2 linked regions of the Homo sapiens genome follow. The protein of the gene in region 1 purifies or fractionates together with the protein of each later gene. This does not show direct contact. Each region holds a gene or a part of one and is shown on either strand. Other genes may lie near its edges.

The links. Proteins that work in one complex are often made in the same cells at the same time.
Region 2: the proteins of DCAF8L2 (region 1) and MYO5B purify together in Homo sapiens (affinity purification with mass spectrometry; one large-scale study listed by BioGRID and IntAct). This does not show direct contact.

What each region holds. Positions count from the first base shown.
Region 1 is NC_000023.11:27,743,844-27,747,343, reverse strand, and holds part of DCAF8L2 (DDB1- and CUL4-associated factor 8-like protein 2), read right to left. Parts: intron 887-3,500; exon of another isoform or gene 666-886; intron 507-665; 5' UTR 449-506; coding exon 1-448.
Region 2 is NC_000018.10:50,188,560-50,192,199, reverse strand, and holds part of MYO5B (unconventional myosin-Vb), read left to right. Parts: intron 1-3,640. UniProt on the Homo sapiens protein: May be involved in vesicular trafficking via its association with the CART complex. The CART complex is necessary for efficient transferrin receptor recycling but not for EGFR degradation.

The DNA.
Region 1 (3,500 bases):
GAGGCTGTTCTTCTTCCTCCTCCTCCTCCTCCTCCTCCTCCTCCTCCTCCTCCTCCTCCTCTTCCTCCTCCTCCCCTCCCTCCTCTTGTATCTCTTCGTCTTCCTCCTCCCTTTCTGTCTCCTCCTCTCCCACTAAAGGGTAATGGAATAAACTTTCACCACTCATGAGGAAATGCTCAAAGTCCTCCAAGCTCTCAAGTTCGATGTCTTCACTTGCGCTTTCTTGGTCTGAGCTTCGATTTTCTGTGCTGGCATCGTTGGGGAATCCACCATCCCTGCTATCACTGCCATCTCCGGTCACTGTCACACTCAGCTCTGAGGTCGCTATGTCAATGTCTGAGGAGGCCTCTGTCGCCGCCACGGCTCCAGACTGCTCCTCTGGGCTGCTGAACAGGCTTTCAGTCCCTAAGTCTGGTAAGCCGTCTGTGCTGCCTTCTTGGTGGGACATCTTGAACGATGTTTGCTGTAGTAGATCTGGAACTGCAAAGGCCAGGCCCCTAAAAGCTCTGGGAAGAAAGTTGGCCTGCGGTTAGGACTGATGGTAGTGAAGGAAGTAAGCGCGTGGCAATCAAACAGCAATCTGATTGGCTAAAGGAGACTAAATAAACTATTCTGCCAAGGCAGTTGCCAGTATGGGATCCCATGAGGTTCAAAAAGCTTCTTACCTGCTCGCCGCCTCGCAGCATCCAGACTGCTCTAGTTTTTCCAGGCCCAGAGCCCCACCCCGACAGGCATCTTACACTGTGAGTAGCTGCGGGTTTTTGAAGATCGAAACTTGCTGCACCTTGGAAAATGTTCTTATTAGAGAACCATGAGCAAAAGTGATCCTCCTTAAGCAAAATAGTTTTTAGAAGCCTCTCAGTGTTTTGCTTGAAGGTAATGTACTCTATAAAATGAAGATGTAGGCAAGAACAGTGAAAAGTCAGCTAAGTGTCCCATAGCTAGTGACTTTTTGACATACAAGAAATATCTTAAATCGAACAGCTTAAGGGAAACCTTGAGTGCTCTAACTAGTAGAATCGATATAGGGTTGCCAGATAAAATACGGTATGCATAGTTAATTGCATTTCAGATAAAGGATGAATACTTTTTTTAGTATGAGTAGATCTCAAATGTTACATTAGATATATTGCCACTAAAATTTTATTTATTATTTATCTGAAATTCAAATTTAACATGGTGTCCTCTATTTTTATTTGTTAAATCTGGCAGGCTCCTTTAGTGAGAAGAATTTAGACCCTCAGTGTAATGAAGGCTGAAATCAACTGATCAATTGAAAGTGGACACTGAAATGAGTAATTGCTTCACCTATTTGAGATAGAAGTAGTACTTCCTTTTTTCTTATTCCACCAGAGTTCCTATATATTTATTTAGAGTTAATTCAATTTAAGATACTTAGGGAACACCAACACAATTTTGTGAAAAAAGGAAATTATGTGATGTCATAGAACTATAAAGTCTTTTACATATCACCCAGAACATGTCCGAGGCTTCTGTGGGGCCTCTAAGGAACAGAAAACAGCTCTACAGAGACAGTTAATTGGCATTACTGTGTTAATTTAATAGTTTCTCTGAATGAATTATCTAAGGTGATATCAGCATATTTTCAAAGGGCTACAGTAAACTGCTAACTAAGAAGGCCAGAATGAGGAAAACAAAGTTTCCCTCAGAATAATTGCAAGATAAATGCAAAATTGATTAAAAATAGAAGTATACAGTCTTCTAAAGAAAATGGATGGTTCCAAGGCCAATAGTAACAGAAAGATATGTAAACAGTATTCATAGCAACTTGTAAAGTCTAGCGCAGCAAACTGAAAACCACTGAAAAGCCCATCAAGAATAACATGGATAAATAATGGAATAATGTATGGAAGTGAGAATGACTAGACTAGAATTAAATACATGAGCACGGATGAATCTTTAACACAATGATGAGTGAAAACACAATTAACAAGGATAGTCAATAATTTCAATTTTTTGCAAGTCTATATTGTTTTCATATAAAATAACATCATTTAAAAAGGCAAGGAAGTAATTGATTCACAACTCAGGATAATGATTAAATTTCAAAAAGAGAAGAAGGTTGAAATCTGAGAAAGATGTAACTTCAAAAATTCTTGGCAATATTTATATCTTATCCTGAGTATAGGTGTCCAGTTATTCTTTTTATTATTTATTGCTAGGCATATACATTTTATGTGTATGATATATTGCATAGTAATTCTTTAAAAGAATTCATGTTCATAAACAAGGGGTCTTGCTCAGCCATGGAACACAAAAACAGGAAACCTAGAGCATCAAACCCTAACATACCCATAAAGGAATTGTCCAGGAAAGGAAGTGTCTTAGTCCATTTCGCTTTGCTCTAAAGGAATAGCTGAGGCTGGGTAAGTTAAAAAGAAAAATGGTTTACTTGGTTAAAAGGTCAGCAGGCTGTACAAGAGGCAGGCACCAAGTTCTGCTTTTAGTGAGGAACTCAGGAAGCTTTAATCATGGCAGAAGGAGAAGGGGAGCGGGAGTGTCACGTGGTAAGAGAGGGAGCAGGAAAAGAGGAGGTGCAAAACTCTTTATAACAATCACATCTTGTGAGAACTAATAGAGTGAGAAATTACTCATTACCTGGAGAGAAGGCACCAAGCCATTCATGAAGGATCTATCCCCATGATCCAAACACCTCCCACCTGGCCCCACTTTCAACACTGGGCATCAGTTTTTTTGATAGCTTTTAATTGTGCTTTTCTTCAACTTAGTTCATTAAAATATATTTATTTTAAGCATCCTATAAATAAAGTGACCACCAACTAATGTGGGATATAGGTCACCCCTCAGCATGATATTTGTTTTAAGCAGTGTTTCTTATAGGAATTTTATTGATTGTACAGTAGTTACAATAATGTCAGATATAATGGTGTATACAATTTAAATGAGATAGGCCTGTTAAGAATTTACATAATATAAAAATATACATATTAAAAGTTAGCCAAGTGGACAGATGCATGTAACAGGGAGAGCAGGTAACAGGAACCCCTTTAATTATCAGTCAAGGGCCCAGATGCAGGAATCTTATTTTCCCCTCTATGACAGTAAACAATGTTCATTAACAGATACAGGTCTTCCAGATACACCTAAACACACAGGAGTAAGTTGTGAATTGCTGCGTGTACAGTCTAAAGTGGTGTAATTGTGATCTTCCTGTGATACTCCCGAGAAAAAGTAAATAGTGAACCCCATGCAAGTAGTAGGAAGCATTGGTCTTTTATCATAGGTTGGACTTGAAGATGTTTAACTCCTGACATTAATATTTGTAAACAGGCCAGGCCTGGTGGCTCACGTCTATAATCCCAGCACTTTGGGAGGCTGAGGTGGGCATATCATTTGAGGTCAGGAATTTGAGACCAGCCTGGCCAACATGGTGAAACCCCATCTCTACTAAAATACAAAAAATTAGCCGGATATGGTGGCACACATCTGTCATTCCAGCTACTTGGGAGGCTGAGGTG
Region 2 (3,640 bases), on another chromosome or scaffold:
CTTTGTTTTCGGTCAGAATCATGTAAGCTGAACCAATTGAGATGTCTGTGGTGTTGGCTATTGTTTCTACCATTGTCAGCCCTCTTCAATTAGGGCACAAACAAGCTACATTTTTTTTTTTTTTCTCTCAAATGGGTGTGGATGGTCTGCTGGTACAGGCTTCATCTTTGACATCGCTTCGTCCCTTCTTCAAATGAATTATCCACTTAAAAACTGATTGTCCCCATAAACTTTTCATAAAGTCATGATTTCACAATTCTTCTCTCCACACTTCGTCATAAATTTGATGTTTGGTCTTGCTTCAATTTTAGTAGAATTCATGTTGCCCTGATAGGGGCTTCTTTTCAAACTGATGACTTAACTTTCTTAGTGCCTCAAACTAGACCCTGTTCTAGATCCCATTCATACTTGTTATAACAAGTATAAAACTATGGGTTTGTTTTGGTGCAGAAAACTCTGAAATCCATGTGAATTTTTTTCCATGATATGCATTTTCCATGACCTTGAAATAGTGCTCATATGAGGCTAATGGACAATTGAATAAACCCTTAATCTTCGGAGCCCTAGTTTTGAAGAACAAGAATTAATATCGGATTGCTTTTAAAGACAATACTTGTAGGAGAAAACACTCAATTTGATTTTTAGTTAGAAATGAATACATTGCATGTTAATTCTTAGGAATGATGAAGTAGTGGGAGTCTGAACTTGGGTTTCAGTGTACTTTTTCTCAGGTTATGGAGATGTACAAAACTGGTGTCACCAGAGAAAGGTCTTGGATATAAGACACTTAAAAAGTAGCTTCATTGGTGTGAGGGGTTGGCATAATTAATCCCAAACAAATATTAGAGTTCTTCCCTAAGGGCTGCTGGGCTGCACCTTGCTCTGTTAATGGGTTTCCAGTTCTTAATCATTTAGGGTCTTGATTATGAAATTAAGGAGATTTTCTGGGACCCAAGACAGTATCTTCTAGATTTATGTTTTGAGCAGTTGTTATTCTTCCTGGCAATTAACACACTTGTGCTTTACTATGAGAAGCAGTTGTGTAGTTGCCTAACCATGGTCTCCCCACTTGCCAAGCTGGCTTCTCAGTATGCATGTGAATCATAAGTTACACAGGGAAGTCGTGCCTGCTACTCAGATTCACTTTGTTTCTTAGAGATTATTCATTTTAGTGTATTATCAAAATAGCCAATGTTCCCTTTTATTTTTAACTTGCTAGTGGGCTTTCCTAATGTGATGAACACTGGAGCCAGACACACACATCAATGTATTATGTATGATGGAAATAATTACCCATTATGCTAACAGCATTTATACATTTTTGGGAATGGAAAATTTAAAGCCCTTTGATTATACCTGTTGCTTTTGTGATAGTTAGAAGATGTTATTATTGGAATATGAAACATTTAAATATATATTAGCTTGTATTAAATACTGTTCAGTAAGAAATTAGTGTATTTCTAGTTATCTAAGAAAATAGTTTCTTTTTCCCTCCATCCAATTAAATGTGTTCTTGCTCTTCTTGATCTGTTCCCTTCAAGTGGCAGTTTATATGTTATGTGATTTTTTTTTGGTAGGTCGGGGGCCAAAGGGCACTTCTCTTTGAACAGAGACACTCCTGTTCTCAGAAGACCCAACACCTCACCTTTGAGAAATTGTTTTCTTTGTAGTGAGGTTTTTCTGGATGGAGAAAGAGCACCAGTCAGTGCCAGACACTTTCAGGGTGATGTCAAAGTGAGTCAGTCTCATTCACTCTCACATCAGCTCCAAAGGTGGAGCTGATGATGGTCTCTGTTGTCACAGTGGCATGCATGTGGTCAGTGTGAGTGCTTGGCTTCCAACCCATTGGAAAAGACAATGTGGGCTTTGCTTTGCATAGATCCAGAAAGAAGCCCACACATGTGCAAGCATGGTGAATACCATTTCATCATGATGATTGCAGATAGTAGTCTGATTTTAAAGCATAAAATGTAACCTCTCCTTCTCAGGCTGAATAATACAACTCTTATCTATAGAAGAGTTACTTGGAACAAAAAATTTAAATACTGCTATTTCAAATACCTGGATTTTCAATATGCTACTTTGATTCTAGCCAGCAGAGTGAATGAGAAATCATCAAATTGAAACTGGTGCCTTGAAACCAGTGCCTTCAAATAACCTTTTTTCCTGCTTGGCTTCTAATTGATAGGTAGTGTCTGAGCAGTGGGTTTTTGAGTGCTGCTGGGAGGTTACTTTACTGGCAGACACACCATATGTATGGCAGCTTTGCACCCAGGAGCCTTTACTAAGGGCGCGATTTGGGACCAATCATTTGAAAAATAGATCTTCTGTGCTTTTGGGCAGGTGTCCTTTAACAGTCCCTTACCTATACCTCAGGTAATGTAAGTTTCTCCCAAGTGTCAGTCTGAAGGCAGCAAGAGCCACCTGTTTCCTCTGTACCCAGTCACCCCTGCTGGAGGGGCTGATGATTCCTTCTTTTGCTGGTGGCTCTGAGTGATGTTCTTTTTTCCAAAAAGTGGTGACAGTGTTAAAGACATGAGGACTTGAAAAGTGTCAGCAGATGCTGTTAGTGCTCCTATTGTTTCCCCCTTACTCCCTTCCCTGCATACTGCCTTGGTGTTAGCTCACTCCCAATAGCCAGCACCCATCTCTTTGTCAAAGCTCCTGAAGCTGTTTTGCCTGTGTGCATAGGGAGCCTGGGAATTGACACTCTGCAAAAGGGAACAGTCCTTAACCAATGGCACTGTAATGACATTAGTTTCCTATCTTGTCACCTTGAGAATGGAACAGCTCTAAAGTATGACCCATACTGTTTTCAGTTTCTTTGTACAGTTGAACTAAAGTTACCATGCTTGGGACTTTCCTTAGTATCACATGTTAGCTTGACTTCCTTCCCTCTCTTGTCCACCTTCTCTACTCCCCTACCAGTCTTTTCCGGAAAACACTGCCTTACAAGTCTCTTGAGCAGGAATCCTTGTCTCAGGATCAGATTCTAGGAGCCCAAGTTAACCATAACTCATGGTGGCTTAGCTTAGTGGATGTTGAGAATCTCAAGGGCTTTGGCCCCTCTATGGTCCCAGGAAAGGCTGAAAAGAAGCATGGAGGTTGTGTGTCATGCTGTCACTTTCCTTCTGAGGCTCATTCTCTGTCTTGCATGTGGTTTTTTTCTTCTCTCATCCCTAGTTCCAATTCCGTTGATCCTCTGCTCCCCGTTTTCAGATGGGCCTATAAGCCCAGTGGATCCTGCTTCACCATGTTGGCGATCATCAGAATTTTGAAGTTTGTACTTGTGACTTGTGGATGTGGCATATTCCAATGGCCTGTAACCTGTAATCATTGAGCAGGCTCTTGCCCTGCCCTCCTTTGTTGATAGGTGTGTGTGTTTTTTTTTTTTTTTTTTTTTTTTTTTTTTTTATGACAGAGTCTCACTGTGTCACCAGTCTAGAGTGCAGTGGAACGATCTCAGCTCACTGCAACCTCTGCCTCCTGGGTTCGAGTGATTCTGCGGCCTCAGCCTCCTGAGTATCTGGGACTACAGGTGTGTGCCACCACTCCCGGCTACTTTTTGTATTTTTAGTAGAGACGGGGTTTTACCATGTTGGCCAGGATGGTCTCAATCTCTTGACCTCATGATCTACCC